Linked DNA regions of Homo sapiens. The protein of the gene in region 1 interacts with the protein of each later gene in a pairwise test. Each region holds a gene or a part of one and is shown in the gene's direction. Other genes may lie near its edges. The genes, in order: TASOR2, LONRF1, GPSM1 and CFAP206.

Evidence for each region.
Region 2: the proteins of TASOR2 (region 1) and LONRF1 interact in binary tests that used the Homo sapiens proteins (3 or more experiments, as listed by UniProt).
Region 3: the proteins of TASOR2 (region 1) and GPSM1 interact in binary tests that used the Homo sapiens proteins (3 or more experiments, as listed by UniProt).
Region 4: the proteins of TASOR2 (region 1) and CFAP206 interact in binary tests that used the Homo sapiens proteins (3 or more experiments, as listed by UniProt).

Annotation. Positions count from the first base shown.
Region 1 is NC_000010.11:5,680,838-5,687,855, forward strand, and holds the start of TASOR2 (protein TASOR 2), read left to right. Parts: upstream 1-4,000; 5' UTR 4,001-4,338; intron 4,339-4,779; exon of another isoform or gene 4,780-6,578; intron 6,579-7,018.
Region 2 is NC_000008.11:12,752,503-12,759,515, reverse strand, and holds the start of LONRF1 (LON peptidase N-terminal domain and RING finger protein 1), read left to right. Parts: upstream 1-3,989; 5' UTR 3,990-4,095; coding exon 4,096-4,816; intron 4,817-5,067; exon of another isoform or gene 5,068-5,575; coding exon of another isoform or gene 5,576-5,603; intron 5,604-7,013.
Region 3 is NC_000009.12:136,351,536-136,358,559, forward strand, and holds part of GPSM1 (G-protein-signaling modulator 1), read left to right. Parts: intron 1-1,500; exon of another isoform or gene 1,501-1,620; intron 1,621-3,246; exon of another isoform or gene 3,247-3,487; intron 3,488-4,154; coding exon 4,155-4,311; intron 4,312-4,806; coding exon 4,807-5,015; intron 5,016-6,478; coding exon 6,479-6,685; 3' UTR 6,686-7,024. UniProt on the Homo sapiens protein: Guanine nucleotide dissociation inhibitor (GDI) which functions as a receptor-independent activator of heterotrimeric G-protein signaling.
Region 4 is NC_000006.12:87,403,286-87,410,974, forward strand, and holds the start of CFAP206 (cilia- and flagella-associated protein 206), read left to right. Parts: upstream 1-4,686; 5' UTR 4,687-4,804; intron 4,805-6,549; 5' UTR 6,550-6,554; coding exon 6,555-6,662; intron 6,663-7,299; coding exon 7,300-7,383; intron 7,384-7,689. UniProt on the Homo sapiens protein: Essential for sperm motility and is involved in the regulation of the beating frequency of motile cilia on the epithelial cells of the respiratory tract. Required for the establishment of radial spokes in sperm flagella.

The DNA of each region.
Region 1 (7,018 bases):
AATGGAATGGCCTTGATGCAATAAGGAGAAAAGAAATACGAATTAGAAACAATGAAGTAAAACTATTTTTATTTGCAGAAAATGTCCTAAAAAAGCATAAAGAATGCACACATGTGCAAACAAATAGCTACTGGATATAATAAGTGATTTCGGCAAGCTACAAGATATAAAGTTAATATGGAAAAATCAATTTTATTTCTATATACTAGCAACAAATTATTGCAAAAATTTTTAGTACTATTAAGAATAACATCAAAAACAAAGAGATAAATATGACAAAATATGTGCAAGAGCTGTACACTGAAAACTATAAATATTGCTGAAGGAAATTTTTAAAGACCTGAATAAGTAGAATTTGACAATTAGTAAGATGTTAATTCTCTCCCAGATTGATATGTACATTCAGCACAATCCCAACCAAAATCCCAACAGGTTGTTTTTGAGGTAGAAAATAAGCTGGTTCTAAAATGTATACAGAAACTTAAAAGACTTAGAATAGATGGGCCGGGTGCAGTGACTCATGCCTGTAATCGCAGCAGTTTGGGAGGCCGAGGCGGGTGGATCACCTGAGGTCAGGAGTTTGAGACCAGCCTGGCCAAAATGGCGAAACCCCATCTCTACTAAAAATATAAAAAATTAGCCAGGCGTGGTGGCAGACACCTGTTATCCCAGTTACTAGGGAGGTTGAGGCAGGAGAATTGCTTGAACAGGGGCTGGGGGTGGGGGGCGGAGGTTGTAGTGAGCCAAGATTGCACCACTGCACTCTAGGCTGGGCAACAAGAGTGACGTTCCGTCTCAAAAAAAAAAAAAAAAGACTTAGAATAGCCAAACATACTTGAAAAAGAACAACATTGTATACTATGCAAATTCAAACCATGACACACCCTTCAGAGTGGCTACAATTCAAAAGTATTGGCAGGGATGTAGACGAACTAGAATTATCTTTGTGGAACTGTATAACTTAGTAAAACCAGCTTGCAAAAAGTTTGAAATGATCTGCTAAAGTTGAACATATGCCCTTGTTATTGCCACAATAATGCCCTATAATAAATCACCCCAAACTCGGTTAGCTTTTGATAACAGCATTAACTTTCAGAATCCTTGATCTTCAGGATGTCTAAGGCTCTGTTAATCCAAAGTGTGTTGGACTGTGGGTTGGTGTCACATCTGTTCCACATAGGTTTGTTCTGGAGACTCAGGCTGAAGAGACAACAGCTACGCGAGATATTTTCTCCACATATGAATCACCTGAGCACAGGAGCCAACTCAAACAGCACGAGCACACTGAAGAATCCTGCTGTGTCATGTCTGCTGATATTCTATCAGCCAAAAGACCTCTCTTAGACCAAGCCCAACGTCAATGAAGTAGAGAAGGAAACTTGGCCAACCGTGGGGAATAAGGGCATAAATATTTGCAGAAACAAAAATCTAAATTATCATGTCTAGCATTCCAAAATCCCAATCCTAGGTTTTCATCCAACAGAAATGAGTGCCCATGTACACCAAGAGATGTAAATGAGAATGATCACAAAAGTATTATTTATAATAGCCAAGAACTGGACACAGCCCAAATGTCCATCAATAATACAATGGGTAAAGCAAATGTGTTACATTCACGCCTACATATACAGCAATGAAAACGAAAGAACAAGTACACCCAAAAACACAGTGAGTCTCACAAGCAGGCACAAAATTATTCACTTTATATACAGTTCAAACCACAAGCAAACTAAATGATAAAGTTTCAGGGTGCATATTTAGTTGGCAAACTTACTTTTAAAAGCAAAGAAGAGAGTACCATGGAAGTCAGAATAGTGCTTAGGCTAGGGAAGAGGGATGGGGTACTGGCAATGTTCTATTTCTTGATGGGGGTGTTGGTTTCATGAATATTTGCCTTGTGATAAATCATGGAGTTGTACATTCCGGTTTTGTGCACTATTAAAATGTTGTTGTACTTCACTCTCTACTTCCACAGTCAGCCTTCTTCTGTTCTTGAATAGGTTTCATTTCACTTCTCAAGTCCTTTGCACTTGCTTTCCCTTCTGCCTGGAAAGCTCTTCCTCCACGTATTCCAAGCTTTGGTTCTATCAGTTTTGATCTTTAGGGTTTGACCTCAGATGTGCCCATTTCAGTAAGATCTTGTAGCTCCACTACTTCTGCCCTTGGCCTCCAGCCCCCAGTCCCATCCACTAGCATTTCCAGTGAGTTTTCACAGCATGTATTGTTATCTGAGATTCTATTTTCTTGTCGTGGTGATTTACCTGTGTTTGTCACTCACCTCTGGAATAAATTCCATTATAGGCAGGGTCCTTATCTAGCTTGTTCATGATTGTAAAACCAGTGTCTATTACAGCACCTGGTTACAGTAAACAGTAAACACAATGACTGAATCTCTTGGTATTACCAGCACAGTGCTTGACTCATGATACATGTTCATTAGCACTTAATCTCTCTCATTGGTACAGTCATATGTCACTTAATGTTTCAGTTAACAACAGACCACATATCCAACAGTGATCTTATATGATTATAATAGAGCTGAAGAGTTCTATTGCCTAGTGATGTCGTAGCCATCTTAATTTCGTACAGCAACACATTACTCATATGTTTGTGGTGATGCTGGTGTAAATGAATCTACTGCACTGCCAGTCATATAAAAGTACAGCACACATGGCCAGGCGCAGTGGCTCCACCGTAATCCCAGCCCCCCAGTGGGACAAAATGGAGGTGAAGACAATGATGTTGATGATCCTGACCCTGTGTAGGCCCAGGTTAATGTGTGTTTGTGTCTTAGTTTTTAACAAAAAAGTTTAAAAAGTAAATTAAAAAAATTTTTAAATAGAAAAAAACTTACAGATTAAGGATATAAAGAAAATATTTGTGTACAATGTGTTTGTTTTAAGCTAAGTGTTATTACAAAAGAGTCTTAAAAAGTTTTTTAAAAGTTTTAAAAAGTTAAAAAGTTACAGTAAGCTAAGGTTAATTATGAAAAAATTTAAAAAAATAAATTCAGTGTAGCTTAGGTGTACAGTGTTTATAAAGTCTACAAGAGTGTACAGTAATGTCCCAGACCTTCACATTCTCATTGCTCACTCACAGACTCACCCAGAGCAACTCCCAGTACTGCAAGGTCCATTCGTGAGAATGCCTTACACAGGTGTACCATTATTTTTCATACTGTATTTTTATTGTACCTTTTCTATGTCTAGATATGCTTATACAAATACTTACCATTGTGTTATAATTGTCCACAGTATTCAGTACAATAACATATAGCATGGGTTTGTAGCCAGGAGTAATGGGCTATGGCTTATGGTGTAAGTATGTAGTAGGTTATGCTTCTAGGTTTCTGTGATGTTCACTCAAGGACCAAATTGCCTAATGAGGCATCTCTCTCATAAGGTGTCCCTACAGTTAAATGATGTTTGCATGACTATTTATCATGGGCAAGGGTAAACCTGAATTTATTGATGGTCACCTTAGCTCTCTGTGCATGTGTTATAAATTTCTAGAGATGCTTTCCTAGGGGGTAACAGCCACACCTACTATATGGATTAAAACAAGGGCAAAATTTCCAAAATGTCGCATTCGGGCCAGACAAATAAACTGTTCTTGCAGCAGCACCTGGGGAATGAAACGCTGAGAAGGGAGAAGGCGCCCGAAGGCGACCACGTGGGCCACAGCCACAGCACTGTAGGTCAGCCGAGAGAGCGTCTCCCGCCTCTTCCCAAGGGCATCTTCCGCCTCCTGTCAAGGGTCGGCAACGCGAGACACCACGCGCTCGTTGGGATCGGCCGCCTAATCAGGAGCGAGCTGTGGCCTTACGCCTGCGCAGAGGGGAGACGCGAGCGCCGCGTGGACGCTGACCTCGGTCCGCGCCTGCGCCTTGGTTTCTTCCCGGCGATTGGTTCCCATCTCTGAGGGAGACGCCTCACTTCAGTTTTCACTTTCTTTTTTTGCCCCCCCCTCCCCTTTTCTTTTCCTTTGGCCGCGAGGTTTTGCTTCCGGTTGCTAGCGCCGGTCAGAGAGAAAGTCGGCATGTTCTCGCAGGCTGCCGGGCGTCCCGGGGTTGCCTCTTGCCCGTGACCCTGACGGGAGACAGAGCGCGGGCGGCCGCGGCGTCCCTGTCAGCGCCCGCGGCGAGGACCCCGGGGCTGGGGCGGACGGCGTGCCCCTGAGGGGGGTCCCCGCGGGAGCGCGGAGCCGGCGACTGGTGCTTCCCACGTGCGCCGGTGTCGCGAGGGCCCGGGAGGACGCAGAGCACGGCCGGGAGAAGCATGGGAAGGAGGCCGAGCCGGGATCTCAGGTCCTCGGGGGCGGCGGCCACGCCAAGGACGGGTAAGTCCCTCCTCGGCCTGGGCGCCCGGGAACCCTGCGAGGAGGACGGCGGGTCCCCGAGGCCGAGCGCTCGGGCAGCTGCCGGGGCTTGGCTGCGAGGGTCGACGCGTTCTCCTTGCCTTTTGCCGCGCTCCGGGTGAGGGGGTGGGAGGGGTCGGCGCCTTCTAGATGACTCAACCTTCTGTCCTGCGCTACAACCTGTGGCCGCGCTCGGTGTCGCCGGCAGGGAGATCCTAACCGTGTCATCTTGCCCCTTTCTGAGGCGTTTCGTTTGCGTCGCCTGTCAGGGGACAGCTGCGTCCTCAGGGATATGCTGATAAGTTCTTGGCTGAAGTTTCCGTCTTCGGGTTTGCACCGGCTGGGAAATCATTTCCTGCGGGTTCTGCGTGAAGCCTGCTGCTACTCGAGACTTCATGGCAATGCGCCACCTTTTCTTTTTAGGGTAAAACAGGTCTCTCCGAAGGGAGGGTCATTTCAGCAGCAAGCGCAAGCCGCGTTGGGATAACTTGGTGCGAGCAACACAGAAGTTTGTCTGAAGGCGGCGCCAAGCAGCGTTTCGTGGGAGAACTGGGTTGATGACTGAAATTTTGAGGAAGATTACTTTGGGAATTCTCAAGTTTCTCTTAGTCGCTTCTTGTCTATTTGAAATCTGTAACTTTAAACAAACCACGCTTACTCTTCCTTATTCTCCCTGTAAGGTACAATTAGAATAGAAAAGTTTATGAAAGTGTATCCAAAACTTAAATATGTGGCGTACAAGTGTATGGTATTATTGGAATGGCATTCGCGATCCTAGAGTCTACAGTGTTCCCTGAATAAAACTAGGGGTGAGCCTGGCGGTAATCCTGCCTAGGAGGTTTATAGCAAAGCAGTGTCCCCTAACGGTGCAAGAATACCCTTCTGTCGAAAAACTGCCTTATAGGAATGGGTGACTGTATGCGGTATGTCCTGTACTGTACATCAATAAATAACTAAGCCAGGCCAGAAAAAGGGTGACAAAAGGTCCACAATTATGTTAAGGAAGACCAAGACGGTATATTTGAAGTTTTGTGTATACAGAACATTTGCCCAAATGTAACTAATTTTTTTAAAGGGAGATTATAAGCATCTCCTGTGGTCCAAACATAGTTGTTAAAATGGGTTAAAATCGGTGAAGTGCCTAAGAACTTGACTGAGACATGGTGTTTGTTAAATACAGTATACTATCTATTCAGTAAAAATAGATCAATATGGCATGTATTTATCAAGTGAATTTCATTTTTCTGTTGGTAGACATTCAAGTTATTTTCAAGATATCCCTATAACTGACAATACTGCAGTGATTATCTCTTGCTGTTATAAACAGTGCTTCAGGTGGTCATGATAGTATTTCTGTAGAATTGACTCCTTATGAGAGTGCTGGATAACCATGTTGCTAAATTGCCCTGAAATGATTGTACCTTTTTATGTTCACTCGCTCAAAAGATGTGTTTTTATCTCCATGCTAGCCAGCACTGGATGATAATGGTATTTTTAAAATATCTTAGCCACCTAGTAATTGAAAGTAACATTCTGTTTTAATTTTTATCTTCCTTGGTGAATACAAAAGTTAAATCTTTTTAGGCAGGTCATATCATTTGCTGATGTTTTTATTGAGTCTGAGCTCTCTTTTCTTTCGCCCATGTAACTATTACTGTAGCATTTTAATTATCATAGTTTTATAATATATTTTGGTACTTTCTTTTGAAAAAGAGCTTTGGGTTTTTCTTTTGCATTTTTTCTTCCAGAAGAAATTAAAACTATCTTTTTAAGTCCTATAGAAAATCTTGGGATATTGTTTGTGATGGTGTTGAATATATAATCTGAGAAGAGACATTTATTTGAGTTTTTCCTTCTAAGAGAATATGTACATCTCCCTTTTCTTTAAAAATTTTTTATTGTGAAATATGTCATTAATATGTACTGACAAAGCGTATCTGTGTAATAAATATGCTTTTTGTCAGTACATGTTAATGGTATATTTCATAACAAAAATTAATAAAAGCTTTAGAAACTTTAGTTAGTTTGGAAACCTTTTGTGTGTTTCTACCCCAGGAGGAATGCGTTCCCTGCCCCCCGTTACCCTGGCCATTATTAATTTTGTGTTAATTATTCCCTTGCCTTTTTAAACAGTTTTATCACCTATATAGATATCCTTAACTAGCATTGTTTACTCTTACCTGTTTTTGAACTTTATTTAAATAAAGTCATTCTGTATTCTATGAGTTACTTTTGTTAAACATTGTTTCTGAGATTCACTCATGTTAAAGCACGTGCCTATAGTTTAGCAATTTAGAAACTTTATTCCCAGGACCCCTCTACACTTTTTAAGAACCATTGAGGGGGCCAGGTACGGTGGCCCACGCCTGTAATCCCAGCACTTTGGGAGGCCAAGGCAGGTGGATCACTTGAGGTCAGGAGTTAGGGACCAGCCTGGCCAACATGGTGAAACACCATCTCTACTAAAAATACAAAAATTAGCCAGGTGTGGTGGCAGGTGCAGGTAGTCCCAGCTACTCGGGAGGCCGAGACAAGAGAATCACTTGAACCTGGGAGACAGGTTGCAGTGAGCCAAGGTTGTGTCACTCTACGGCAGCCTGGGTGACAGAGTGAGACTCCGTCTCAAAAGACTGCTGAAGATCCCAAAGATCTTTTGTTTATT
Region 2 (7,013 bases), on another chromosome or scaffold:
TGGTAGTCCTTGCAGGCAATTGGCTTTAGACTTACACTTCGTATCAGCTCTATTTAACCTACTCAGGTTGTCCTCATTAGGGCTTTTCATTTGGAACGCTATTATAGCAATCATATATGGTATTTTTAGCATCTTATATAAACTTTCGCACAAATGCCCAAGTTATATAATCAGCTCTCCCTCGGCCCCCCCACCCCCGGCTTTCTTTCAGCTTCCCACAGTTTTACAGTAGGGGCAAGGAGGTGTGAGTGCAATAGGGGATCCCTGTACAGTGACTGCAGGTGTTCAGGTCTCAGAAACTGGTTCCCCCTCTCTAAACAGGGATGAGTATGTACCAACAAAATGTGTTCTTGATACCCTTCTCTTCTATTCTCAGCCCTCATCTGCTGTTACATTTTCAGCAGGTATCACATTGCTGTGTTCCTCAGTCTGGGAGATGCTCTGCCTCCTCTTACTGTGTTCAAACCAAGCCCTGGGGCTTGGCTCCAGAGGCAGAAGGCACCTTAGAGGTAGTTGCAGTTCCCTCTTTCTACAGATAGCAAATGAGGCCTAGGGAACCCAGGTGACTTCTTCCCTGGCATAGAGGCATAAATAGAGTCAGCACCAGGTGTCTGGATTCCCTCGCTGGTATGACTTCTATGAAACTAGCAGCTTCTCAGATCCCAATTTTCTTATATATATATATATATATATATATATATATATATATAGAGAGAGAGAGAGAGAGAGAGAGAGAGAGAGAGAGAGGGGTATGAAAAGGTGGTCTCTAGAGACCCCTCCATCTGTGTATTCTGTACAAAAATGCTATTGGGGACCAGGCGTGGTGGTTTATGCCTCTAATCCCAGCCCATTAGGAGGTTGAGGCAGGGGAATTGCTTGAGGCCCGGAGTTTGAGACCAGCCTGGGCAACATAATGGGGCCCGCCTCTACAACAAGTTAAAAAAAAAAAAAATTGCTGAGCAGAGAGGCATGCGTCTGTAGTCCCAGCTACTCGGAGAGGCTGAGGTGGGAGATTGCTTGAGCCCAGGAGGTCAAGGCTGCAGTGAGCTATATACTCACTATGCACTGCAGCCTGGGTGACAAAGTTAGATTGTGTCAAAAAAAAAAAATCTATTGGCTAGGTACTGTTTATATAAAACGTTATAGTTTACTCTCTTTGAATAGAACATTATCAACTGAAATGAATCAGGAATGGGACATATTTTGCTTGGACTGACAAATTCAGTTTCTTTTTTAATAAGAATGTAAAGAAACAAATGGTAAATTCACCCACAGCAAAAAAAAAAAAAAAAAAAAAAAAAAAAGAGGTTCAAATACACATCTTCAGCTGAGTTGTATATAAGAAAAGCACTGTGTTATGTTACTCTTAAATAGGAGTTTACCAAACTATATCAGGAAAAGTCTTATGGTGTGGCAGTGGGAGGCAGGGATAAGCAGGCAATGATGGTGATAAGCATTTTCCAAATTAGGAAACAGATACGCTTTTCTTCTGACTCTCTTACATAACTGATCTATTTTAGAAGACAACACTCAAAAACCGAAACAGAATACAAATCTCATGATTTTACTACTTTGTTAGCAAAGAATGACACGAGCAAGTAATGCGGAAGGAAAAGGAGAGCTCTTCACTCCATTATACTTCTCCTAGCCAGGGGCAGCTTAGCAGGATTCCCTCTTCTCCATCACAGCCTGCTGGGTGACTCAGAGACCTGTCTAAATTTTAGGAAATGAACGAAGAAGGACACTAATTTTTCTCGCCTTTGAATTTAAACAAGCAGTCACATTATTGTGCAACTTTTGGATGGCAGAGAATGATGGAAGGGTGACCTGTGACAGTGCCAGTGACTGCTTTGCCTAGACTTCCTGATTCAAAGGGAAGTTATGCAGCACACAAAGGCCACAGCGGCAGTACAGCCTCTTACATAAATAAGTTACATAAATGAGAACAAGTTATGTAAATGCATAAACCAGCAAACATGAATTATAACCATTCACAAATGCCAAGGAGAACACGGTAAGATTCCTCCTACGGTCCCATTTTTTTCTCCCGCACATTATCATAATTGTGCCATTTTATTTCACATCAGAATCAGATGTGGTTGTCATATTTATTAGGAAAAGGAACTCCAAAGGACAAATAATACTTCACATTATTTTCTGAACCACATATTGTACTTTTGGCAGAAATCCCATAATAGAACCTGACTTTATATTTGAAAAGAAGTTTATGAGTGTTTATTAATTTACTATGCTCCTTGTAATAAACATGAACACATTGATTACATATTTACTGTTGTAAATTTTGCAACATGCCATTAAGAACAAGGATGCGTTACAAAAATGAATGTGCGTGTACACATGGATATTTGTTTGTGATTTCAAGTCTCAAGGGAGTATGTGGACATCAGCTGAAAGTCACTGTTCTGCTTGTTAAGGTAGTAATTTAGGGGTTAGGATTGGATTTAAGGTTATGCTCATGACTTAATCCCAATGCTTCCCATGCCAAATGCTTAGGAGGTGCTCCTTGGATCTAGCTGCAATTTGCTTCAGGTGCAATGTGAGTGATAAATGAACTTGTTTCTGTCTGCATCCTGTTGGAACAGGAGGCTTGGCTTTTTCTCAGGCACCTCTTTTTTATTCATTCCCTTTAGGGTAATATAACTCTGTCTTTTCTGACGTTACACGACTTGTTGATTGTGTAGTGAAAACACATGAACTCAAAACATTTTTTAGCCTTAATTGCCTGTTCCTTATAAAGAGAAATATTAAACGTTTACCAATTTCATACATAGCATGCTCAGGTGAACTTTCCAATTAGCAACTTCTTTTACTTTGAAAATCTCATATATTTCTATGAAATATTACATATTTTATTAAATATTACATATTAGTCTAACGTAGTAGTAGTGGAATAGACGTGATCTTAAAATCTGTATTAGCTGTGTGATTTTTGACAAATAACTTTCCCTGTGTTTCCAATCATTTGAAAAAGGACTAAAAGTCCTAAGTGACTTCCAACATTAGCGATCTAATACCCTATCATCAAATCTGTATTTTCAGCTGAGAGCTTTAAACTTGCTGCTGTGAAGTTTAAGGGAAATAGCACCCATTATATATCAACCCGATCATTTTCTTCTGTCAGCAAAACTGCAGAGCCAGCTTGGGTTGTAGTAATACGGTGACCGCCATGTGAAACATGTTTCTTGGTGTTTTCTTTTAAAACTGCCAAATATAGACCTTAACCAGCTGTAAGGCAGTGCTTGAGGTGTGGAGACACCTGAGGAAGCTGTGGGCTTTCTCCCTCGAGGTGGGCCCACGATGAGTTTTAAGCAAGACGGGCAAGCAGTCACCTGGCACCAGGAAAAACTCCTTGCCCTCTGGAGGGAGTCGCCCCAGGAACGTGGGTTTTTTGTTCATATTTAAAGTTGAGTCCTCTAGAACCGAAGAGTCCCAGTCATCTGCCGAAGGTGCGCTCCCAGGCCCCCTGCTTGGGCGCGCCCACCTGGAACATGGGCGTAGAGCTATGAAAATGCAGACCCGCACAAGCGCGAGGCCACGCGGGGAGACCCCCGCCCGCCAGGAGTTGGGGCAGGTCCGGCCTGGGCGGGGGCGTCGGGGGAGGGGTGGTGACCCGGAGTCCCGCGCGGCAGGGGAGCGTCCCCCAACCCCCGGCAGGGGCGAGGGCCACCGCAGGTGGCGGCGTTGGCAGACAGGCAAGCGGGGACTGAAGCTCCGGGGTCCTTCCGGCTTTGTTCCGTCACGAGCCGAGCCCTCCTTTCCGGAGAAGCCAATTAGATCTCCGACGGAGGAATCATCCGACCTGCGTCCCCCACCCGGAGGGGGCTCGGAAGGGGCGGGGCCCAGCGCTTGGCTCCTCGGGAGCGCGGCCGCGGGCGGCGTGGGGGAGTCCCGGGCGCCGTCGCCGAGCCCGGCCCCGCCCTCGCCAGGCCCCGCCCTCGGGGCTTCCCGGGCGCGCGCAGCCCCGCCGTGTCCGCGCGCCACGCCCCCCTGCTCGCGGGCCGCGTGCGGAGCCGCGCGCCCGGGAGGCTCCGGGACCGTGGCGGCGGGCGGCGGCGGCGCAGCCCTCCGCGGGCCATGTCCTCTCCGGCGGTGGCGAGGACCTCCCCAGGAGGGAGTCGGGAGATGGCCCCAGCGCCGCAGGGCCGAGGCCGGTTCTGGGAAGTGGGCGGCGGCAGCGGCCATCGGCTGGAGCGCGCGGCCGCGGAGTCGGAGCGCTGGGAGCTGCTGCTCCGCCGCGGGGAGCTGCTGGCGCTGGGCGGCCACCTGAAGGGCGCGCTGGAGGCGTTCGCGGCGGCGCTGCGCCGCGGGGCCCCGGCCAGGCCCGAGTGCCTGGGCGCCCTGGTGGACTGCCTGGTGTTCAACTACCGGCTCCGCCACGGGCTGGGCTGGAGCGCGGCCCCGGTTGCAGGCGCTGACGGCGGCGCCGGCGGGCTCCTCAGATGCCTGGGCTGCCGGGGCTTCCTGAGCGAGCCGGTGACCGTGCCCTGTGGCCACAGCTACTGCCGCCGCTGCCTGCGGAGGGAACTCCGCGCCCGCTGCCGCCTCTGCCGGGACCGGCTGCCGCCCGCCACCGCCAGTGCCACTGATGCTGAAGGGACCGCCCCGCGGCCGCCGCCTCTGGCCGCCGCCATCGCCGCTTCAGACTTCAGAACCAGCGTCGTCCTCAACCACCTGGCCGAGAAGTGGTTTCCGGGCCAGCGCGAGCGGGCCCGGGCGGCCGGCAGGCTCGGGGAGCTACTGCACCAGGGGCGCTACCGGGAGGCCCTGGCCGCCGCCTGCGAGGCGCTGCGAGCAGGTGACCGCGCGGGGATGCGGCGGGGCCGGGCCGACCGCACCCTCCTGGCCCCGAGGGCCGGGGACCCGGAGCTTGTCTGCGCCCCGAGAGTCTCCTCTGCTTCCCCGGGGCCGCTGGGCCGCTGGCGTGTCGGGTCTCGGGGTGCTGGGGGGTGTGGGAGGGGGCGGCGCCCCGGGGTGCTTCGGTCATAATGGGGATCGCCCTGGGAGCCGACTGTGACGCGGCGCGGGGAGGGGCGCTCGGCGCGGGGTTCCCTCGGCCGCGGCCTGGCTGTCGGGCGCGCGCTCCCGGCGCGGAGTGGGTGACCTGGACCGAGGCCGCCCCGGCGCGGGATGGGTGGTAGCTGGGCTATCCCGAGCGGCCGCTCGCTTCCTGCCGCGCGCTTTCCGGGAATTGGCTCTCGGGCCGGGCCCGCCGCGGGGAAACGACTGCCGGGGCGGGGAGAGAATCCCCCGCGAGGGCAACTAGGCCGGGCAGGCGGCGTCTCCCTTCCTCACCCACAAAAGTCACCGGGACAATTGGGAACCGCGGGAGGGCAGAATTGCATAAGCTGGGGGCGGGGGGCGTTGTGTAACGGGTGACGTCCGGTGGGCGTGGCGGGAGCTCCGCGCGGGCGCCCGGCCCCGGGAGGCCCTGCAGGCCGCCGGGCTTGGGGCTTGGGGCGGAGCTGCCCAGGGTGGTCCCTTGCTACCTGGAAATGCCTGAACTGGTTCCTCTTGAAAGTTTCAGCTGGCCTGTTTCAGATCCTGCTTATTTCCTATGTACTTTGCAGTGCACCTAGCTTATGGTAAAGATGAGAGGGGCTGCCTGATCCATAGTTCTCTGCCACGCTTCTCCTGGCCTTTCCACTTAGGATCAGGCTGTGGGGAAAGGCCTTATAGGTCTTGAGTGCATTTCTTAGTCTCCAAGAAGCAGCCTCGGCCTCCTAACCTAGGTTAGCACTTTCTTCTTAAGGTGGTTTTAGGCGCTGAAAGGGGGCAGTTTCAAGCTTCTCTTACGTAAAAGGAAGAGTTGTTCTATATAAATCAGTAGTTCTCTACCAGGGGGATTTTATCTCCCCTCTCTCAGGGGGCATTATTTAGAACAATATCTGGAGAGATTTTTGGTTGCCACCTCTTGTGGGGGTGGTGCTGGTACCGACATCTAGTGGGAGAGGCTGGGGTGCTGCTCAGACATCCTACTAGGCACAGCAGGATTCCCACAACAAAGAATTATCAGGCCCCAAGTGCCACTGTTGATAAACCTTGTGTTACGCGTATTTCAAGATCTTAGTGTCTATCCATTGGCATGAAATGATAGGGGAATAATCCCCAAGAAAACAGACATCTAGAATAGCAACTGACTTTAGGTATTACAGGTAAATTTATAGACTGTGTAACTGAAAGGATCATCTTTCGGGTCATCTTTTGTCCCAAGTGCTTAGTCATATTGAACTAATGTCAAGATCTTGTGTTGTTTAGTATCTTTAGAGTTCGAAGCACAAACCCCGGAGATTTTTGTATTCTTTCAGTGCCTTCGTGAGGAGTAGGCAGGTATAAAATAGAAAGGTAGGCTCAGAACAAAAAAAAAGTATTTGGAATACAGAATTCTGATACACATGACTCTGCTTCTCTGGGTGAATAAAGAGAAGAGAAACTGGACTCAGTTGTACAGACCACCTAGTAACTGACCATGGTGTGATTTTTAAAGCGAGGAAGCAGATGCCAGGCAGTGAAGACTTGCACACCGTCACACTGTTAACTGGTAGAGAGGCAGTGCTGTATCTTCCGCTTCTCCTAAACGTTGGTCTAGGGTTCATCCTGCCTTATAGCACATGTTTAGTATACATATCCAAGGAAGTTTTTTTGGTCACTGAGGCTGAACCTTATGGACAGTACTGCTGATTTAGTGATCTGACCTTGAATTAGGGGTTTCACAAGAATCCAGGTCCTGGTCCATGGAAGAACAGTGAGCACTTTTGATAATTGAGGTCTAGCTTAACATTCTGTGACCAATAATATTTTAGTTAACAGAGATTCTGGTTCTTGGATCGAGGATATTATGTTTAACAGGAAAAGGCTCTGAAAGATGTAATCTCTCTTTTTTTCAAGTTGCATAGATTGCACATGAGGATTTTGCCCACTTAGCAACTTCATTCTACTTTTGCAGGAATAGAACCCAAGTCTTCTGACTTTCACTGCATTAGCTTATTTTTTCC
Region 3 (7,024 bases), on another chromosome or scaffold:
GAAAGCACAGCCTCTGAGGGCTTCCAGGCTTCACGTCACCCCAACAAACTGCCCTGGGTCTGGGCCAGCAGGGCAAGGGGACACAGTTCCAAGTGTCCAGCTGCCTGGCCCAGCACTCTGGAGGCCTTGGCCAGGGCCCCAGGGAGCCCCCACCTGCTGCGGGCCCTGCTCCCCTGGCCCCTGCAACCACCGCGGGGCAGGACGCCTGGGACAGCCAAGATCCTGGCCCCAGACAAACGGGGTTCCCAGGGTCTGTGAGGACGTGGCAGGGCCTCTTGGCTTTCTGCTGACCTGAACCCCACTGGCCTTACCGAGGTCAGAACCTTGGGTACCTCCGAGTAAGGACCGTCTGCACCCTGGTGGCAGCCTGTATGGGGACTGCAGCGAGGGTGGGTGGGGGATACATCCCTGGGGCGTCAGTGGCCGGGTGGGCCCCCTTCCCCCTCTGCTGGGGTCCTCAGGGAAGGGCTTTCAGCTCTCAGTTGGGGTCCTCATCTGCAAAGTGCAGCTGATACCAATACTGCGCCGTTGCTGTTGGTGACACCAATACTGCGCCGTTGCTGTTGGTGACACCAATGCTGCGCCGTTGCTGTTGGTGACACCAATGCTGCGCCGTTGCTGTTGGTGACACCAATGCTGCGCCGTTGCTGTTGGTGACACCGATGCTGCGCCGTTGCTGTTGGTGACACCGATGCTGCGCCGTTGCTGTTGGTGACACCGATGCTGCGCCGTTGCTGTTGGTGACACCGATGCTGCGCCGTTGCTGTTGGTGACACCGATGCTGCGCCGTTGCTGTTGGTGACCAACCAGCCCCTGCCCCTCCCCACCCTGTGCCCAGACAGTGCAGGGGCCTTGCAGCCAGCACATTCGGGGCTTTGGGATCTGAGGCGGTGTGGCTGGGTGTGGTCTGGGGGTCCAGAGAACTCATTCTGGGGTGGAGGGTAGGGGACAGGGCAGGGTTGGCCTCAGAGGCTGGAGACAGTGTAGGTCCAACCAGGAATGAGACAGAGAGGCAGCAACCAGAGGCTTGAGTTGAGCTGGCCGGGAGGCCCTTGAGCCAGGGCACTGGGGAGCCACCGAGGGCTGTGGGACAGGAAGGGCCGTCCCGGACAGAGGAGTCCAGATGAGGACAGCAACCCGCCCAGGTCCTCTGCGCCTGCCTCCGTAGTCAGGCTGAATAAAGAGGTGGCTTTCCCCACCTGGCCCAGCTCTGGAGGGAGGCCCAGGGGCCCAGGTGTCAGCGGGAAAAGGGCTCTTCGGCAGGCTGTCTGCCCACACAGCCCTCCAGTGTGCCCGCCCACAGGCACGGGGAGGGGGAGGTTCACTGCTGCACTTGCTGGGGGAGTGTTTACGGAGTGCGCCTGTGTGTGAGTGCGAGCCCACGTGCGTGTGTGTGAGCCTGTGTGTGTGCACGCACTCAAGTGAGCAGGGGCGGGCGCTAGGAGGGCCGAGCCCTTGCCCAGGGTCCTATTTAAGCCTCAGGCATCCCAGCATTGAGGCAGCACTTGGCACTTTGGGCAGGGCGGTGGTGGCCCTGGGCACCTTGTGTCCTGCCTGCGCTCTGTGTGGCCAAGCACCCAGCGTGGCTCCCTGCTGCTGTGGAGACAGCCTGTGATCCGCGTGAGTCTGGGGTCCCTGGGGTCCTAACAGGTGGAGGCTGAGGGAGCACACGGGCCTCTGTGAAGCCGGGTGGGGTGGTCTTGGGCCGGGTGCATTCCCCTCCTCCGCAGGAGAAACTGGGCTTGTGCCAAAGCAAGAGAGACTAGAGTCAGACTGCAGGAGGGACTCTGAGGCCTCCGGGAAGGAGGGAGCCAGGGCTTGGGGCAAGGGAGAGGTTAGAGCAGGGAGGCGGAACCCCGAGTCCCACTGGATATGTTCTACTGGGACATAAATGCAGGGGAAGGTGGCCTTGGGGCCCAGGGTCCTGCTTCTGAGGGGCTCCAGGAGCCCCAAACTATCCAGAGCCTTTCCCCGTACCAGGCACTGAGCCACGGTTTTGCACCTGCAGTCGTGGGCCCCTGCCCCCATGTGAGGGAGGCATCAGCCCCTCAACAGCTGGCCCCAGCCTCAGGGAAGGGGAGGGCTGCCCGACATAGGACCCTGAGAGGGGCTCTGCCATGGGGCCTGGGACATGGCCCCTGACGGGTCCTGCCTTTCCCAGGAGGGACCTTGCTCAGTCCACCTGGGCCCCGGGTCACCTGGGGGAGTCCAGATTGGGCCAGAGGCAGAGGCCCCCCGCGGCTGTGCCCTAGGTCATCATAGCCCAGGAGCCAGTTCCTTTTAGACCAGGAGGCCACATCCTCCTGGGGAGGTACCTGTGTGGCCCCAACTGGCACTCAGGCTGGCAACCCCAGTGCCACCCTCTGCCTGGACCTGCAGCTCCCAGAGCCCTGGCCCAAGTGGATGTGGCCCTCCCCACAGACTGGGCCAATTCTCCCCTCCCTCCTGGCTGGGGAATCCGGGGGAGTGGGGGTGTTGCCTTAGGCCTGAGCCAGGCTGCAGGAGGAGAGCCCTGCGGGGAGAAGGGGGTGCTAGAACTCTCCCTCCTCAGGTCTGCCTCAGGGACAGGAGGTACCTCAGGCTTCCGTGACAGCTGGGGACTGACTCCAGGGGCCAGAGCCAGGTGGGGTCTCTCCTAAAACAGGGCTGTCCACAGGGCCCTCGGCTCAGCTCAAGGGTCTGAATCCCAGCTCTTTTTTGCTCCAGCATGACCTTGGGTAGGTCACACATGTCTCTAGGCCCCACTCTCCTGTGCCCTGGGCCGAGTCCAGCAGAAAACTGGAAGCAGGACGGGAGCCCTAGTCCTGGGCTGTGGGGGTCAGGTGTCGGGAATTCCAGTTGTCTGTCAGACAGCTGTCCGTCTCCTGGGCTGTGGGGGTCAGGTATTGGGAATTCCAGGCAGCATCGGGGACCCGGGAGGTGCCATCTCCACCAACATTGCGTCTCTTGTTAACTCGTTCAGCTGTGAGCCCAGCATTTGCAGACCTGGAAGAGGCCACCAGCCGTGAGATGGACAGGCTGGGGCCGGGCAGGGGCTGCCAGCGCCGGTCGGGAGGTGGACGGGGCTTGGAACCATCACAAACACCCTTCAGCCCTGGGGCCCGGACCAGGCCCTGTGAGGCTGGGTCACGGGGTGGACCTGCTTCAGCTGGGCCCCTTGGGGGGCCACAGGAGACCACGCCCTCCAGCCTCCCTTGTTTGGGTGTGTGGACTGAGGCCCAGGGCGGGGTTCATTCCTTCGAGTTCATTCACACAGCAGACACCGGTGAGGGCTGTGTAGGGCATGGACACAGGGAGCTCATGGCAGGGCTGACACAGGGTGTGGTGGGCACAGGGACAGGAGGCACGGGAGGCTTCCCGGGATGTCTGGGAAGTGTTCCAGGCCAAGGCTGGGGAGGCTGGCCCAGGGCAGGTGACGGACAGAGGCCTGGACTGGGGTAGCACCCATGAGAGGGGAGAAGTCCGGGGCAGTCGGCGGGTGCCGAGGGTGAGTGACACGTCCTGGGGGAGGGGTAGCCGGGTGCCGAGGGTGGATGACACATCCTGGGAGAGGGGTAGCCGGGTGCCGAGGGTGGTGACACGTCCTGGGGTAGGGGTAGCCGGGTGCTGAGGGTGGGTGACACGTCCTGGGGGAGGGGTAGCCGGGTGCCGAGGGTGGGTGACACGTCCTGGGGGAGGGGTAGCCGGGTGCCGAGGGTGGGTGACACGTCCTGGGGGAGGGGTAGCCGGGTGCCGAGGGTGGGTGACACGTCCTGGGGGAGGGGTAGCCGGGTGCCGAGGGTGGGTGACACGTCCTGGGGGAGGGGTAGCCGGGTGCCGAGGGTGGGTGACACGTCCTGGGGGAGGGGTAGCCGGGTGCCGAGGGTGGGTGACACGTCCTGGGGGAGGGGTAGCCGGGTGCCGAGGGTGGGTGACACGTCCTGGGGGAGGGGTAGCCGGGTGCCGAGGGTGGGTGACACGTCCTGGGGGAGGGGTAGCCGGGTGCCGAGGGTGGGTGACACGTTCTGGGGGAGGGGTAGCCGACAGGGGGCAGGTTAGAGTCCCGATCTTGGCCAGGGTCTCAGAAGTGTGTGTGGCCTGGGCAAGCAGCCCCCGGTCTCGTCTGGGGGTCTGCGGGGCTAGCTTTGGCTGCGGTGACCCCACTCCCTCCCCAGAGCATCCCGAGGGCCCCGTCTTCGGACGAGGAGTGCTTCTTTGACCTGTTGACCAAGTTCCAGAGCAGCCGCATGGACGACCAGCGTTGTCCCCTGGACGATGGCCAGGCCGGGGCTGCCGAGGCCACGGCCGCCCCCACCCTGGAGGACAGGATCGGTGAGTGCCCCCCTCAGCCGGGCCCTCCCTTGGGCTTGTCTGCAGGGGCCAGGACCAGGGCTCCCGTCCTGCTTCCAGTGAGGAGTTTTCGGGGGCAGACCAGCAGGCCAGCTGCAGAGCACCCTGTCACTGAGGGCGCCCTCCGCAGCCCCCACAGAGCAGCATCCCGGGAAGCGTGTCATCAGCCCGCCCTCCGGGACACACTCAGGCTGCAGGGGCAGTCTCAGGGAGGGGGCAGGGCGTGGGGGACTGGCGTTCTCCTCCTGTCTCCTCCTGTCACCCCCTGGAAGCCCCTGAGGTGGGCGTGGGAGCCACAGCAGGGGGAGCAGCTGAGAGCTGCCTAGGCCGGTCAGCGGAGACTCCCCCAGGAGCCATGGCCCCAGCAGCACAGTGGGCTGGGCTGGGCTCAGAGGTCAGAGCTCACTGTGGCCGCAGCCCGAGCCTCGGGCTTGACCCCGCACTGGGTCCCAGGTCTCACCCTCTGGCCCCCCGCAGCCCAGCCCTCGATGACGGCCTCGCCCCAGACCGAGGAATTCTTCGACCTCATCGCCAGCTCCCAGAGCCGCCGGCTGGACGACCAGCGGGCCAGCGTGGGCAGCCTGCCGGGGCTGCGAATCACCCACAGCAATGCAGGGCACCTCCGAGGCCACGGCGAGCCCCAGGAGCCGGGGGACGACTTCTTCAACATGCTCATCAAGTACCAGGTGGGCTGCGGCCCTGGGCGGGCGTGGCTCGCGGCCCCTTTGCCATCCACGTGTGTGGAGGCAACTTGTGTCCTGAGGGGTGAGGTGGGCGCTGGTTCTGCCATCTCCGGTCATGTTTGAGGGACTCCTGGGGGACTCAGCCAGTGTCACCACATGACCAGGGGTGTCTGAGCCTGAAGCCCTACTCCTGGGAACCCCGGGCTGCTGGAGACACCAGAGACCCCCCCTGGCAACCCCAGGACACTCCCAGGCTGTGCCACCCCCCTGCCATGCAGGAACTCGGGGTGGGGGCTGGGGGGTCACAGGTCCTGGAGCTCATGGCCTCAGGGATTCCCCACCAGCCCTCCACACCCGGCAGGGAAAACACGGGCCAGATAGCACCCCCAGAGTGGGGAGGGCAGGGGGATCCAGGGCTGCCAGCTGGCTGGTGGGACAAAAACAGGGACCATCCAGGGACCACACAGTGGACGGCATGGGCGGAGGGTCCAGCCCCAGAGGGCAGAGCCAGGGCCGGGGCTCCAGCCTGGCAGCCACGCCAGGAATGACCTCCTCATCTGTGTGGGGGTGAGCCAGGTAGGGTGGCCGGAGTGGAGACTGCTGAGCCAACTGCTATCCCAACTAGGACCTCAAACTCTGGGGGTCTCGCCATCCCTGTGGGGTGCAGCCATTGCTGGGAAGGGGTTCAGGGTCCGTAGACTTGGGAACAGGCTGGGGGTGGAGGCCGCTTGGCCCACCACGAACCAAGCCAGCACGTTTCCAGGTCTGCCGTCCTCCCCACAGCAGAGAGGAAACCTCGGCCCGGGGCCAGGCGTCCGACCAGCCACCTCCAAACCAGCCCCACCCAAGAGGCCCAGAGTCCCCCATCCACACGCATGCCTGCGCCAGCTCCCGTCCCTCCTGCTCCAGGCGCTTCAGAGAAGCCCAGACAACCCCTTGGCCCCCTGGCCTGCACACTGGAGCAGGCGAGGCCCACGGGGTCAGCCACCTGACACAAGGGGAAGCCCTGGGGGGCGCCACACTTCGGGCTCTGGAAGCTGAGACCTCAGGCCTGCCAGGGTCAGTCCCAGGCTGTGCTGGTTTCCAGGGCTGGGCAGAGGGACGGCCACGCATGCCCGTCCCTGGGGATCAGCAGATGTGGGGAGCAGGCATCCAACGCCGCCCTAGCCACTGTCTCCTGGGCCTGGCACACCCATGCCCAGTGGGAATCGCTGGACCTGCTTTTCCTGGGCGGGCCTGCCCTGGGCTCCTGCGGGTTGGTGGCGGGGCCACCAGAAGACTGCGCTCAGGGCCCGGGCTCCCAGCACAAGACCCCAGAGCGAGGCAGGCCCCAGAACCAATTTCCTGGGTGGACAGGGGGAAGCCCGTGAACAGTGCACGCTGGCCTCTGGAACCACCGCTGCTGACCAGCCCCGGACCACTGGGGCTGGGGGGGTGAGGCCGCCAACTGCACTGTGTCCACCCAGTCCTCCAGGATCGATGACCAGCGCTGCCCGCCACCTGACGTACTGCCCCGGGGCCCTACCATGCCGGACGAGGACTTCTTCAGCCTCATTCAGAGGGTGCAGGCTAAGCGCATGGACGAGCAGCGGGTGGACCTCGCCGGGGGCCCGGAGCAGGGGGCAGGCGGCCCGCCCGAGCCCCAGCAGCAGTGCCAGCCTGGTGCGAGCTAAGGCCCTGTGCCCACCGCCAGGCCCACCCTGCCCCCACTCCTGGACGCCGGTCTCACAGTCACAGCCACGTCCTCCCGAGGCCATTGCCGAGGACAGGCACTGGGCATGCAGCCCCACGGCCTCCCCGACCCAGGGCGACAGGCTCAGGCCAAGCTGCCCGTGGTGGGAGGGCGTGCTTCCATCCCGGGCTGGCCCCCATGGCCCTCAGCTTCCTCCCTTCTGCCCCTGCCGCAGGCCGGACGGGGCCTTCGGCATGTCGGCCCCGACCTGGTGCTGTCAGACTCCCGCATCCTCTCCCCCAAGCCCTTCCCGTTCTGCCCTGCCCTGCCAAATGTGAAA
Region 4 (7,689 bases), on another chromosome or scaffold:
AGGAGTTCAAGACCAGCCTGGCCAACATGGTGAAACCCTGTCTCTACAAAAAATACAAAAATTAGCTGGGCATGGTGGCACATGCCTTTAGTCCCAGCTACTCAGGAGGCTGAGGCAAGAGAATCACTTGAACCTAGGAGGTGGAGGTTGCAGTGAGCTGAGATTGTGCCACTGCATGCTAGCCTGGGTGACAGAGTGAGACTCTGTCTCACAACAAACAAACAAACAAAAAAACTAGTAAATTGCTTTTGTTGCTCTACATTGGTTTAAATGCATGGTCTAGCATGATAATGCTAGTCTGGCAATACGCTAGTTCCTGGTCAAGCCAACCATTCTTCAAGATCATGCTTGCTCCTGAGCTGCTGAATAATTTCCAAAGAAAATCACTTAACATGGCAAAATGCTTTCACTTTAAATTCATGATCCTGACACTCAGATGCACATTCATTACTTCTCAGTAATTACTGAAAGTTACTGAAAGTTTCTAGTAAGCCCACCCACTCTTCTACCCTCCCAGATGGTTATTTCCTATTAGCCTCTCTCCAAGGTTACCCAAGGTTCCACTTCTGACCATGATGGAATAACAAGGACTGGACTTAACTTCCTACCACAAACAACTAGAAAACTGGGCAAAATATATAAAACAACTGTTTGCTATTATTGCCCCCAAATTTCTGCCTGGAGGCAGTTTCCAGATCCTGGGCATAGAAAGGTAAACCCACTGCCTAGGGACTTTATTGAGTTGAGGAGACAGAGATCAGAGTTCACAGATGTGGAAATTGAAGGGCAAAGTTTTGGAAGGGATGAAGCTATACAAATAAATAAATAGAATTCATAAATCTGAGACTTTGCTAAGTACTTGGCTGTTCATGTATGGATTGACAATCCACACAGTCGAGCACAGAATGACCAGGGAGTATAAGCTAAATAATTCTTAGAGCTCACAGAGGATGAGAAGACATTTGAGCTCTGACCAGCCAGAGTGAAGAGTCCTCAGTGAAAACCAAGGAATTCATTGAAGACCTCTGAGCAGTTATTAATTAGTAGTAAGGTCAAATTATTTCTGGAATGAAGACTACTCTAGACCTACCCTAATAAAGCTTAAAAACAGTCCACAAATGAATCAAACTCATCCACAAATAACTGGCTGAAAAAAACAGCACAACCCTTCCTAAAGGGGGACAATTCAGACACTGAACAAGGATGCAATTCACAACGTCCAGTATTCAATAAAAAATTATTATTATTTTTTGTTGTTGTTGTTTGTTTTTGAGACGGAGTTTCGCTCTTGTTGCCCAAGCTGGAGTGCAATGGAGCGATCTCTCGGCTCACTGTAACCTCCGCCTCCCAGCTTCAAGCAATTCTCCTGCCTCAGCCTCCCGAGCAGCTGGGATTACAGGCGCCCGCCACCGTGCCCAGCTAATTTTTTGTATTTTTAGTGGAGACGGCGTTTAACTATGTTGGCCAGGTTGGTCTCAAACTCCTGACCTCAGGCGATCCACCCACCTTGGCCTCCCGAAGTGCTGGGATTACAGGCGTGAGCCACCGTGCCCGGCTCAATAAAAAATTATTAAACATGCTAAGAAGCTCAACTCATTTGAGCTTAAAACTTCTTAAAGCCTGAGGAAAAGGAAAAATATATAATTCTCTCTTTAAATGTTGAACAGTTTGTGACATATTAAAGATACTTAATCAGAAGAAATTAATTCTACAATATTCTTAAAGGCAATCTTTTAGCTTTTAGATAAAAAACATTTGATAAAATGGGTTTCACTTCTTCTAGGATGACTTCCATCACAATTCTATTTTAAGACTGTTTTATGTAGATTTGTAATCTGGTGTTTTGAAACAACATAAAACTTGGTTTCTCTTTTAACAAAACTGAGAAGAGTTCTCATGCCTTCTTTTTCTCAAGGTAAATATATCCAGTTCTCTCTATCTTATTCTGACAAAATTTTTCTTATTCTCTGGATGCACTCTGGTTCCTCCGTGTTTTTTAATTAAATGCCATTGCTGCCGTGTTAAAACTAGGAACAAATAGTTCTACAAAGACTAGAAGTCCAATAAACCATGGGAGTATAAAATATATTGTCATAGTTGATGTTGTCAATAATAACCATGATAAAGGTCATAAAATACTAGTTTCTAAAATTTATGAATCCTTTTATCTATGTCAGATGCTGTGCTAAGTGCTTCATGACGGCTATCTCATTTTACTCTCACAACTCCACGAGATAGATACCATTGTTTTGTTTTATAAATGAGAAATTTAAATCACTGAAAGGTTTATAAATGAACTCTTTCCACACTTATACTGTATAATAAGCCACTCAAAAACTCAGCGGTTTAAAACAATACTCATTCATTATCACACATCTACAGGTTGACTGGAGTTTGGCTGATCTAGGCTGGGCCCTAGTTGGGCATCTCTGCATCTTACTAAAAGATCGGTTCAGGCAATTCTGTGCCATATGCATGTGATTCTGGGACCAAAGAGCTTGCTTTGTATGTACTTCTCATGGCAATGATACAGGCACAAGAGAGAAAGCAGAAATATGGGGTCTCTTTAAGATCTTGGATCTGATTTGGCACACCGTTGCTTCACCACAACCTATTGGCCAAAGCAAGTCACATGGCTAAATTCAAAATCAAGGATTGGGGAAGTATACTCCACCAAAGTCCATGGCAAAGGTGTGGATGCTAAGAGGCATGAAGGATTAGGGAGAATAATTCAATGTAGCACAAAACGCTAAATAATACTTCCAAAGTCATACCCATTGTAGCAGTCAGGGATTCAGTTTGGCTGAATGTAGCAAAAAACCCAAATAATAGTAGCTTAATAAAATAGGAGTTTATCTTCTCTCATGCAAAGTCTGGAGATAGCCAGTCAAGAAGCTGATAGGGCTGTTCCATGACGTTACCAGGAACTCAGGTTCCTTTTTCATTTTTGTTCCACCATCCTTAAGATGTGACCCTCATGTTTATGTTCACAGCAAGGCTGCTGGAGCTTCAGCCAGCATATTCTCATTTCAAGTAGAAAGAAAAGGAAAGGCAATAGACATAAAATGGAAGTGCTTTCCCTGACACCTCATCCAGTGATTACACTTACATCTCATTGGCTAGACCATGTCACAGGCCACTCTCACTGAGAAAGAGGTTGAGAGATTTTTTTTTTTAAAAGAGAACACTGTCATTCCCAACACAGGGTTAAATTAGTAACAGAAAGAGAAGAAAACATTGACATTAAGTAGGAATTAACAGTATCAAACATACTTCAGGGAGTATTTGTGCCAGGATTTGCCCATTAGTTTAAAACTATACTTAATATGATGGTATTATTCTTACCATCTTAAAAGATATTTAATATTCTAATATATAATATATGCTCATGGAAGACATTTTGGTAGCTATCTTAAAGTATAAAGAAGACAAATCAGCCATAAGCCATTACAAAGTTACAACCACTGTTAAAATTTTGCTATCTCACCGTCCTTTGGTTGCTTTACCTTGTATACTTACAGTATATTTGTATATCTAAATTGGGTTCATTCTCTACAAATAGCCAGTCTCATCTCCCTTGTATTTTTAAATTTTGTTTTATAGATCATAAGACAATATATACTCATTATGGAAAAATCTAGAAAAAACAGAAAAGTATAAAGAAATAAAAGTAATTTACCTATAATTCCATCCTTAGATCTAATTGCTTGCTGTGATTTTGAAAAACTGACCTACACTTTTTGTGCATTATATGTATGTCAATATAGTTTAAGTCATATTATATAAAAATTTCGCATTTGGCTTTTAACAAATATAAGACAAACACAAGGTTTTTGTTAACATAATTTTAAATACCTGCCTGATATTTTACTTAAATAACGTGTTTAGATTTCTAAGGCTGTGCTATTATAAATCTTGTTACTCTGAACATCTATTTTTACACAAGCTTCTTCCACATTCCGGGAACATTTTCTAGAAGGCGGAAATAAAATTGTGTTATATTATGATGTATATTCTTGAGTTTTTGTGTTGATTCATTTCCTAGTAATCAGGGAATGTCCTTAAGCAAAGCATATTCTGCATATTTGTTTGCAGTTTGAGAAAAATTACTGTTTAAAAATAAAACCTTGTTGTTTGATGCTCTCCTTCTAATGAGTATTTAATCCTTTTTCACACTTTCACGTCTGAAGGTGGGCCTAACGATATTATCGTTAAGGGATAAAACCTCATTATTTTGACTCGGACACTAATGTGTTCTTATCATGTGCTTCTTGAATGAGCAGTTTTCTCTTCGGGCATCTTGGAGCGTTCTGTTACAGACTTCCTTTGAACAACGGGACATGAAATAAAACCTCGATACTTTTTACTTTTGTTTTTTAAAACTAGATACTTTTACAAGAACTCTATTTGCCCAGGATACAGCCCTTCCGTTTTCCCAGCCTCTCCAACTGGCTCCTCCCTCTCCCCCACCCCGCTTTCAAAGCCGCCTCATCATTCCCACGCTAGCAAGTTAATATCCTTATTTACGAGAACTTGTGTTTCACAGTCTTAACCACGGAGGTTAAGATGTCTCTGCCTGAAATTCCTTTGTTTTTAAAGTTTTTCCAGCCCATCTTTTGGGGGAAAGACCCTCAAAGTGGGACCCCGCCCCACCCCCACCTGGCCCCGCCCCCTCTGGTCCGGAGCCTTCCATCTCCATGGTTACGCGGCGGTGGCTGCGAGCGCCCAACTGCTCCGACCGTCGCGGTGAGGGCCCCAGGACAGAAGCAGACAGACACGGCTCCTGCTGTCGATTCCGATCCAGGTCAGCCTACTCGGGGCTCCGCGCCCTTGACCCGGAGGCGTACCCCGCCAGGCGGCGAGCTTGGGGCGGCTGGCGGAGCTCGGGCGGCTGGAGGACCGCGTCCTGCCTCGTCGAGACTTAGCTCTCAGTCTCGATCCTTTAGGCTGCGCCGCCGCAGAGCTGGAACAGCGGTCCATTCCTGCCGGAGGCGCCACCCCAGGGCTGCAGGGCTGCCCTCTAGCCTTTGCGCGGGTGCCTGAGGCCTCCCGCTTCTGTTTCGCTCCACTGGCTACCCCAGAAGCCGGACCTCGGGAGACTTAGTAATTGGAGGGTGGGTGCAGGGAAGGTGCTGAGCCGCGTCCCTAGCGACCCGGCAGCGGCGCGCATGCGCACACAGATCCGGAGCGCGCACACAGATCCGGAGCGCGCACACAGATCCGGAGCGCGCACACAGATCCGGAGCGCGCACACAGATCCGGAGCGCGCACACAGATCCGGAGCGCGCACACAGATCCGGAGCGCGCACACAGATCCGGAGCGCGACGGACTCTCCCACTGACTGGCACTTGCGCATGCGCTGCCTGTGATCTTGGAGTACTGATTATAAGCTGTTTTAAGCGATTCCCTTAAGCCGCGCACTGTTGTAACCACTAAAAACAGGACTAATTTAGTCCTCACACCTCTGGAAAGAAGTGAAGCAAGTGCCCAAGGTCTCACAGCTGGACAGTGGTCGGGTCACCATGGAATCCAGGCAATCTGGTTTCACTGGACAAAATGCCTAGTGCTTCGTACTCATCCATTGGAAAGCTAATAATGCTGAGGAGTTGGCTTTATCTACCTGATATTGCCTTTGTTATACTCTACATGCCAACTTCCATTGTGCTTAGTTACTGATATTCAGGAAAATCAGAAAACTCGATCAAAACCTACCACTTTTTCCTTATAGTAAATGCTTTTTTTTATCGAGAGTCTGAACTCTATTTTAGATGTGCGGAAAAGATCATTTTAATGATCTGAGCAAGAATTGTTTTCCAAGATTCTAGTACAGTTCTGAAGGGTCATTTAATGAATGTGGTGGAATAAGCATTTCTCCTTTTAAAGCTGTACTCTTGGGTTTCTCATTAATTTTACCTCCCTCCCCTACAAATACTGCTTAGCCTTTTTTTTTTTTTCCTGAGACACAGTTTCGCTCTTGTTGCCCAGGCTGGAGTGCAATGGCACCGCAACCTCCGCCTCCCGGGTTCAAACGATTCTCCTGCCTCAGCCTCCCAAGTAGCTGGGATTACAGGCGTGTGCCACCACTCCCGGCTAATTTTGTATTTTTAGTAGAGACGGGGTTTCTCTGAGTTGGTCAGGCTGGTCTCGAACTCCCGACCTCAGGTGATCTGCCTGCCTTGGCCTCCCAAAGTGCTGGGATTACAGGCGTGAGCCATCGCGCCCAGCCTGCTTAGCCTTTTTTTTTTTTTTTAATTAAGAATATCATGATAGGAATATATGTTTAGTGACCATAATTTAAATAATTGAAAATGTTATTTATCAAATGTTTCAATTATTTGAAATCCCAATCGTTGTCTGTCTTCAATAAAGTCCTTCATTTTTAAAAATAATGAAAAACAGGAGAGGCCTAGATACTAATAAAAATGCTAATAAGCTAATAGATGATATTATGACTGTTTACAAATACAATATTGCAGAAATCAAAAGAGGAAAAAAATAAATTTGCATAAAACCACGGTTTTTTTAAAAAAAATTGTTGTTTTATTTAGCCAGAATGCCTCCAACTCAGGCCGAAAGTGTTATAAGGAGTATTATACGAGAAATAGGACAAGAATGTGCAGCCCATGGAGAGATTGTTTCTGAAACTCTGATTGCTTTTATGGTAAGAAGAAATATTTTTGTGATTACTGTTTTATTAAGAGGTTTTTTAAGATGTGGTGTCCATTTTCCCCTTTAAATTCTGTGAGGCTTTCATAAATGTTTTTCAGTTGAAGCATAACGAGATAATTGGACAAATTTGTGAAAACATTTTTAAAAAGTTTATAGAGCATGTGAGTTCTAGATTTATAGAGACATTTAGAAGACCTTGATGAGTTTTGGAAACATCAATAATGTTCTCCTGTGTGGGAATTTTTTGACGTGTATTTTTGTTTGCCGTTGTTAAAAATTACTCATTGCTGTGGTTTCTCTGTTCTTGCTTTTGGTTAACAATACACAATAAAAATACAATAAAATATGCCATAGTTTCCCAATTGAAAACCTAGCCATTGCTTTCAACTTATTTCCCCATATAACTTTTCTAGCACCATATTCAAGTTTGATGTTTGTTGCTTCCTTTTTTCAACCTCTAACAAGGGTACTGATGAGTTCAGTAATAAGAAGAATAGTTGGAAAACCAACCCCAACGTAATCAAGAGGTAGTTGTTTAAAAAATGGAAACATATTAAGCTAATAATATGAAATAAAATTGCTTAATGGATTCTTTCCTAGTTAATGGACTCGTTCCTACTTTTTTCTAGGTGAAAGCTGTTGTCCTGGATCCAAGTAATGGCTTTAACATGGATAGAACCCTCATGAAAAGTGATGTGCAGAATCTTGTTAAGGTGATTACCCAACAGTCCTCAAATTTGCAATTACTTATTCTCAGTTGTAAATACAATATTTGTATTAGTCATTATTGCCTTCAGCTGCATGAAACAAAAGCCCACAAAATAGTAGTATACACGAGATATTTTTCTCATAACACAAAATCTGGAGAGACATAGACCATTCTTCCTGGCTTCCTGGGGCACACCATCCTTGCAATATGGTCATCTGGTGGTCAAAAGATAGCTACCCTGCCTCTAGGCAGAAAGAAGGGGGAAAGACAAAGGGCAAAATATGTGTGCCAATTGGGTCTATCACCTTCT